Homo sapiens: one gene and its partner. The protein of the gene in region 2 purifies or fractionates together with the protein of the main gene of each other region. This does not show direct contact. Each region holds a gene or a part of one and is shown on either strand. Other genes may lie near its edges.

Region 1 (3,887 bases), on a different chromosome or scaffold from region 2:
AACTTCATTATCCTTATTTTTTTTTCATTTTTACTACACAGAGTGGTGAAACAATATTATGACCTGGCACCCATCTGTAGACCAACACTGGAAAACTAGTGCCTTATAACTGATATTCTTAACTGAGGCTTGATGGTATCAACATCCCTTACTCCTAAAGGCTGAACACTTGACCTCTTCTCTCTCTTCCTTGTTCAGAGTTTAATTTTTTAAAAAATAGCTACAGAGGCCGGGCACGGTGGCTCATGTCTGTAATCCCAGAACTTTGGGAGGCTGAGGCAGGTGGATCACCTAAGGTCAGGAGTTTGAGACCAACCTGACCAACATGGAGAAACCCCTTCTCTACTAAAAATGCAAAATTAGCCAGGTATGGTGGCGCATGCCTGTAATCCTAGCTACTCAGGAGGCTGAGGCAGGAGAATCGCTTGAACCCAGGAGGCAGAGGTTGTGGTGAGCCGAGATGGCACCATTGTATTCCAGCCTGGGCAATAAGAGCAAAACTCCTTCTCAAAAAAAAAAAAAAAAAAAAAGACAGAGCCATGTTCATGGTGACAATCCTGCCCTTTGTTCCTTTTTCTTTTTTTTAACTTGGGATTGGATGTTTGGATTATTTTAAGTTTTGTTTCTGATATGAAAAATTTCGTGAAGCAAATCTTTGTACTCATGTAAAAAATAGACCAAAGATTTCTGAGACAGATGCAAAATATGGTTTTGCATCTTATTTTATATACATTTACATAATAAATTTGAGGCTGATATATTCCTCTTAGATTCTATGCCCAATAATATAAGCTTAGGAATGACTAAGTCTCAGCACTAGAGTCCCGACTACAAAGAGCATTTTCAAATTCCTTCAAGTTTGGTTGAATTGGACATGATTTTAATTTTCTGCCAATTGTTACCCCTCTTCAATTCTTGGAAAAGTTTTCATACTTTTTGTGTAATCTGGCAATTGCACTCCTTTCCCCAGTTGTGGGATACTCTCTGTATCTTTTTTCTTGCATGTCTGTCTGTCTCTCTCTTTCTCTCTCTCCCTGTCTCCCTCTCTCTGTCTCTGTCTCTGTCTCTCTCTCTCTCTCTCTCTCTCACACACACACACACACACACACACCCACTCATAGAGCTTTAGGAAGCAACAACACTATTTGTGTACGTATGTCACTTAATCTGGCACTGCCATGACAAAGTCTGCTTAGACAACCCACCTGAGGGTCGAAGACTTCACAGTTTATGACAAGGTTTTTCGGGCTTTCCAAGTCCAAGGCTTCTACATCATAGAACAAATCTGCTCTGCAGAATCCAAAGACCTACAAAGGAATGAGGAGCTGTTAGTGTGTGTGTCCAGGTGGTGTGAAGATGACCAGCCAGAGTTAGCTTCCAGACATTCAGAAAAGGAAGAAGTGCTTTAGAAAAATCAGGGTAATATGATCAGATATTCCCACCAGTCGTTCAGCAATCTTTCCTTGTTAACACTTTGGGGAAAGTGCAGGTGGTGAAGGGTATCACTAAAGTTGCTGTGGTTTTTTTCATGAGCAGGCACCAGCACTGGGCTTCCCCATGGGTGATGGAAATGATGAGGAAAACCACATCATTGCTGCCTTGCCTTTAGGCCAACCCTTCTGCACTGGAGACCTCAGTTGCCTGTGCCTAGGACAATGAGGAATGGTGTCAAAGAGGGATTTTTACAACTTCAGCTGGTCCCTTGGAGGAAAGTGTTGGACAGGAGGGCATCTGTATAGCATAAAGATGGGTTTTCATGGACATTGTCAAGGCAAGTGTCTGCTGACTCCACCCAAGTGCCAGGGCTACAACTGGCTGCCACTCCTGTGCTCCAGATGCTCCTAAACCCACCTGTGAAAGATCGACTAGGACAAGAGGACGGCTGTCTGCTAGAAGAAATTGCTAAGCATTGAGGTTCTGAGTACAGTTTGGGAATCAGAGAGACCTATGTTAATCCTGGCTTCTCCATTTCCTAGTTGTCTGAGTTTGGGAAAGTTACAAAAGATTTCTGAAAGTCAGCCATTGTAAAATGGGGATAATACTATGTACTCACAGGTTGTGGGAGGGATTAATTAAACAAGAGGATGCTGTAAAACACTTACCCCTGAGCCTCCTCTTCAGCTCTGGTGCTTCAACTCTGGGTTTACATTATCCACACCAAGATCATGAAGGGTTTGTTGGCCATAGGAGTAGGGGAGGGAGGTGTCTTTTCTGGTGGGCGCTAAGAAGGTTTCTAGACCTGGTTCAGTGTGGACATTAGAAGAGCTAACAAAGGTACTAATGGATGGTTTCTCCCTTTTGACCAGGGAGAATGTGTTGTTAAACCTCAGAAAAATCCTGGACTTGGCATCATAATTAAAATTCCATTTCCTAACACTCTCTAGCTAAGTGCCTTTAGGTAAGTGGTTTTAATTTCAGGTCCCCTTGTCACAGGAAATGTAGGCAGATACTTGCTTTTCCTTGTCAGCAGGATTTTCATGAGGCTCTCCTGGCAATAACAGATGTGGAGGTGTTTCTTTAACTGTAGGTCACCATGCAAATGCCAGGTGGTATTAATAATGTCTTCTGGCAGGTACATGGGAATCTATTTGTAAATGATTAGAGGAAAAATCCCACTGGACTTTGTATGAGAATAACTAAGTTTTAATCTCAGCTTGGTTGTGAACATCGGCAAGACCTTTCCTTTGCTGATTTTCAGTTACCTCCTCATTTGTCAAGTGGGATTCCTGTGAGTGTGATGATGTGGAATTAATAAAACCACTTGGCGTAGGGTCTTAGTACGAACTGCTATAGTTCTAACTAAGCCTTTAATCCTAATCAGTTAGAAACTTAGTTTTAAGTTTAGGTATATATCATGTATATTATAAAATCATGTTCTTATGGTTCGCTTATGTTCTCTGTGCCTCAGTTCCCCTATCTGCTAATTTGGGATTAAAAATGGTATCTATCTCATATGGTAGTGTGAGGGTTAATAAGTTATCATAGGCTGGGCATGGTGGCTTGCGCCTGTAACCCCAGCACTTTGATTTGTAATCCCAGCCGAAGTGGGTGGACACCTGAGATAAGGAGTTTGAGACCAACCTGATCAACATGGTGAAACCCCATCTCTACTAAAAATACAAAAATTAGCTGGGCGTGGTGGTGCATGCCTGTAATCCCAGTTACTCCGGAGGCTGAGGCAGGAGAATCGCCTGAACCCGGGAGGCGGAGGTTGCAGTGAGCCGACACTGTGCCATTGCACTCCAACCTGGGCAACAAGAGCGAAACTCCATCTCAAAAACAAAACAAAACAATAAGTTATCTGATGTGTAAATCACTTAGAAGAGTGCCTGGCAGGTACTAAGTGCTTCCCAGATGATACTTTGTATTTCACAGACATTTCTTCCTCCTTCTCCTCCTCCTCATTTTCTCCTTCTCATTCCTCTTCTCCTTCTTCTCCTTCCTCTCCTTCTCCTTCTCCTTCTCCTTCTTCTCTTTCTTTTTTCTCTGTGACTCTAGTCAACGATCACAGACATTTCTTATACTCACATTGGGGTGTCTGGGGAAATGGTGTCTGGGGCAGTTCCGCACAGAGAAGTCCACGAAGTAACCAGTTCCTTCCCCTCCTCTCTAGAACAGATGGGATCAAAATAGTTTCAAGAACAGACAAAGAAAAAGGAAAAAAAAGCAGTAGATAACTACCATTCAATATTTTTTAAGGCAGTATGAGAATTCAAAATCACCAGTATGTGTCATTTTTTAAAATGGTTTCTGCCTTTTAAAAATGTATCACCTAAGTGATAAGGTGAATACCAGTTCACTGAAAAGGTTCAAATAATAAATATATGATAAAGTAGAGTGTGAAAAATCACCTCTCCTGCACTCCAACTTCTTCCCAGAGTTTTCAT
Region 2 (4,255 bases):
TCTTTAATCTGTGACCTGCTGTGTCATATTTTTGAAGGTATAATCATTTTTCACAATATTTGTAGTAGAAGATTTATCAATTGTCATTGCTTTTATTAATCCACTTAAAATATTAAAGCTTCAATTTCAAACTTCCCTGGGGCTTTCTTTTTTCTTTCTTAAAATTTTTACTTATTTATTTTTTTACCTTTTAAGTTCATGGATACAAGTGCAGGTTTGCTACCTAGATAAACTTGTGCCATGGGGGTTTGTTGTATAGATTTCCATTCACGCAAATAGACCTGTCTTGAGGTTTTCTTTTAAGCTGTTTCTGATGACCTACCTCCATGCCTTCGAAGGTATCATGGGCTATTCTTTCATCCCGTAATGCCCTTGCCCACTTTTCCATACAGAATTTCTACTCATCTTTCAAGATCCACCTGAAATAAAGCCTTCCTTGGTCTCCAACCATATATGGGAGTGATGATTCATCCTTAGTTTCTCCAGTTTTTGCTCTCCTGGTGTTTCTCTCTTACACTGTTGCTTATATTTCAGGAATGTGGTTACATATTCATATTCCCTTGAGGACATAAATTATGATACATTCCTTTTTTATTGCCAGATTTTGCACAATGACTGGCAGAGAACAAAGATTTGGGCACATCTCTAACACACTTCTGGACTCATATATATGAAGTGACTACGTAACAAGAAGGGCTGTATTGAGGTTATGTGATGTGAATTAAGCAAGCAAAATCTGCATGCCTATATATGAATAAATACCTCTAAATCACTAGCATAAATAAATAAATCACAGGCAGTATTCATGTGATTTAATCAGAGTCATGTAGCTTGGCACATGACTCTAATTTTAAGGGCTTATGAAGAGCCAGGATTGAGGCCAGGTGATTCTAGGGAATTATCTAATTTTCCTCTCTTTTCCTCCTCTACTTTTGTGTTTAGCCAGCATATTTCCCCTGCCTCATTTTATCACTTATAATCTCCTAATTACCTAATAAATCTGTGAGATAAATCCTTCCCTTGAATTAGAGAACTTAAGAATCAGCACAGTAAGAATAACTATCTTTTGCGTAGCACACAAACAATGTTCTAAGGGCTCAGAGGTAGAGACACTTGTAAATCACAACGTCAAGGCTTAAACTCAGGTTTTCTGATTTTGTTGACTTTACTGTGATACTTTGCCTAAGAACACATAAGCATTTTCATGACCACACATTGCTATTTGATTGAAATGTAGAGTAAAGAGATGCAGAAAAGTGTATTTCGTTGTTTTTAATAAATATTTTACAGGAATGAAGTAGAATGCATCTTGTCAGTACTTAACCATCACGATTACAACAAATATTTCTGATTTGTTCAGCCCCTGTAACTTTGAACCGGCAGTTATTTGTCACTATGGTTTCCCTTTGGTACAGAATCCAAATAAGCAGTATTCTGCATGATTTCATACAACCTCAACTTCCTCACTTGTCATTATACTGGCCTGAACCATCATTTTCGCCTCATCTCTAGAAAGCCTGGATCATGAGCTTTTGAAGGGGATGGAGGAATTCCACACATGCCTAGTACCCAAAACAGTACCTGGCACTCAGCAACTGTTAATCCCCTTCTAATTTTCTTCCACCATTCCTCTTTACTTTTTTCCCTTTAGATATTCTAATTGAAGTGTTTGGGCTTTAACATCAAATAGCAATTTCTTATGCATTTTTTCAGATACATAAGTGAAGGGCACAAACAAATTTAAATTTTTGGATTATAGAATCCAATTATGTCTTACCCTTCTTTGACACTGAAATAGAACTATTTTCCTTAAAATCAAAACTTTATTTATTAAAAATAGATGAACATTTTATTAGAGTTCAGAAGTTACTCGTCTGTCCTACAAAATAATACAAAAAAGTGGATTCATAGCAATTTAAAATAAAGAATGTAGTGTGCAGGTTATATTTGCTGTGGAATGTAATTAAAAATTAAGAAAACTTTAATAATATAATTTCTAAATTTAGTACATATATACAGAAAAAACCCACTGACAAATATTAGAAAATAAATGTTATTGAAATTAAAATATTGAAAGAATTGTGTGTGTGTGTGTTTATATGTAATTGATAGAAAGAGCCTGGGAAAAATAAATACCATAGTTTGAAAGATAATTCATTTTTTAACTAAAACACAGAAAACCTAGGTTGTCATCTTTCAGTCTCATAGTAATGGAACAATCAAATGTCACGAATAATCCAAATACACATTTAACTCAAAATGTAGATAAACATGACGTGACTACACTTTTTCCCCTTTTGGGTGAGTAGAATCAATTCATTTAAATAATTCCATTTTGATTAACACGAAGTAGAATCATTTTTCTTAACCTCAAAATATCACAAAGAGACATAACAAAAGCAAGCTGGTAGGTAAAAGCACTTAAAGACTTGAATTTAGCCTGGATAAGCCAGACTTAGTTATTTTAGGTTTGGCTGTACTTACATTAATATGAATATGAATACAAATAGCAGTTTTATTGGAGAAACTTGCAGAAAGTGCATATGGGTCTGTATTTCATGGTTCTATAGTTAGAACACTGATGTAATTATATTTACTTACTTACTATAAGATTTTGGCTATCCTACATGCTCAATTTTTAAATGATCTCAAGTAAGTTGACAGATTTATGTAGATCCTGACTTTGAATTTTTAAAGATACATTATGATCTATTTAAAACATGGTTTTAGGACAAAAGCCCATGACTCTCTAAATGTGATTTACCTATTCCAGTATTGCAAATTCCACACTCAAGAGAAATGGGTCATCATAAACATATTTTTTCATGAAGCAAGACTAATTCTCCAATAGTTCCTGAACCAGGAATTTCGTTATTTGCATTTCAAAACAGTATTGTAGCAATAGAATTGAAATTCCTGCAGCTCTGAATTTGCTATAGAAAAAGCTTTGTAGCCTCTGTCGTGGTTAGCTTAGCTCCACAAACAAGCTCTTGACCCCAGAGACTTTCATTCTCATAAGTGAAATGGTATCCCGTAGATACACACCATTTTGATGAAAGTCAATCCCCTGTGATCTCACAATTTAGAAGTCTTGGGAATCTTCATAACCCAAAGATTTATGAGCAAACTGTTGAAGAAAAGTACTCTACCTTCACATTGTCTGTTTTTCATGTTTCTCTGAAATCCAGGCTTACAGCGACAGAAAACAGATGTTTTTATTTGATTACAATATGCATCATCTCCACATGGATTCACATTATCTTCACAGGTATATTCAGTAGGAGCTGGGATTTAAAAATATGATCAAAACTAATATAATTCTAATTCCTGAAGTGGGGAGTTAACTTTTAAAAAATGTTTGAAATGGTATTTATTATTCCACAGATAACTCTTTTTGAATGTACAAGGTTACGGTCTTCTCTCCATATAAGCCCCCATGTCTTATAAATGTATAGAAGTATAAAAACTAAACTCATTAACATTAAATACAGATTAGACCAAGCTGCTAACAGTTGATATTTAGAGCTGCTGTTAAGCTGTAACACTTTTTAAAAATAAGTCAGGAGTCAATGATTCTAATGACAGGCTATCTTTATTATAGTACGATATATGAGTACTACATCCTTCTCTGAGAGCCAAAGCATTTCCTATAAGCTACCTAGAAATTTAGGCATTTATTGCTAACCTAAGCTTAATATTTGTAAACTCAATCAAGGGTACTGCTAAGTTACTCAAGCAAGTTGTCTAAATCAGCAGTTTAAATTTCATTTTTTTATGCTGGACATACATATGAAGAGTAACATTTGAGTGTGTAATGTGCTCATAATGGTTGGTCATAAGCTGCAACATTTTAGGACAGACAAAAAGTTACTTGTAATTTCCAGGATAGCAGTTGCAATTTTATTACTTTATCTCCCATTCAGGAAAACATTTTAGAAGGCCTTCTCTTTTAAATAAATGAGAGGGACATTATTATAGAGACATCATATCATCTCTAAGTTACTTAAATCAAATTTTTGAGAAATGTGAGAACTTTAATTATTATCGTTGTAACCCCACTGACTTGAATATTTTGCAATTAGTTAAAATAGGTCAGTGGAATGATACCATGGTTTAGACACATGCAGCCATATCCTGGTGGGTATTGCTTCATCCCTAAATGAGGAAAGTTTTAGATGCATAAATTAAAAAAAAAAGATGTAAAAGTAGGAAATATTGTGTGACTTTTGTAAGCAAACTGAATTTAGGATCATAC

What was found. The genes of interacting proteins can lie anywhere in the genome.
Region 1: the proteins of LRP1B (region 2) and HRG purify together in Homo sapiens (affinity purification with mass spectrometry, with the first as the bait; one study listed by BioGRID). This does not show direct contact.

Annotation. Positions count from the first base shown.
Region 1 is NC_000003.12:186,672,509-186,676,395, reverse strand, and holds part of HRG (histidine-rich glycoprotein precursor), read right to left. Parts: intron 3,610-3,887; coding exon 3,529-3,609; intron 1,308-3,528; coding exon 1,206-1,307; intron 1-1,205. UniProt on the Homo sapiens protein: Plasma glycoprotein that binds a number of ligands such as heme, heparin, heparan sulfate, thrombospondin, plasminogen, and divalent metal ions. Binds heparin and heparin/glycosaminoglycans in a zinc-dependent manner.
Region 2 is NC_000002.12:140,353,193-140,357,447, forward strand, and holds part of LRP1B (low-density lipoprotein receptor-related protein 1B precursor), read right to left. Parts: intron 3,285-4,255; coding exon 3,150-3,284; intron 1-3,149. UniProt on the Homo sapiens protein: Potential cell surface proteins that bind and internalize ligands in the process of receptor-mediated endocytosis.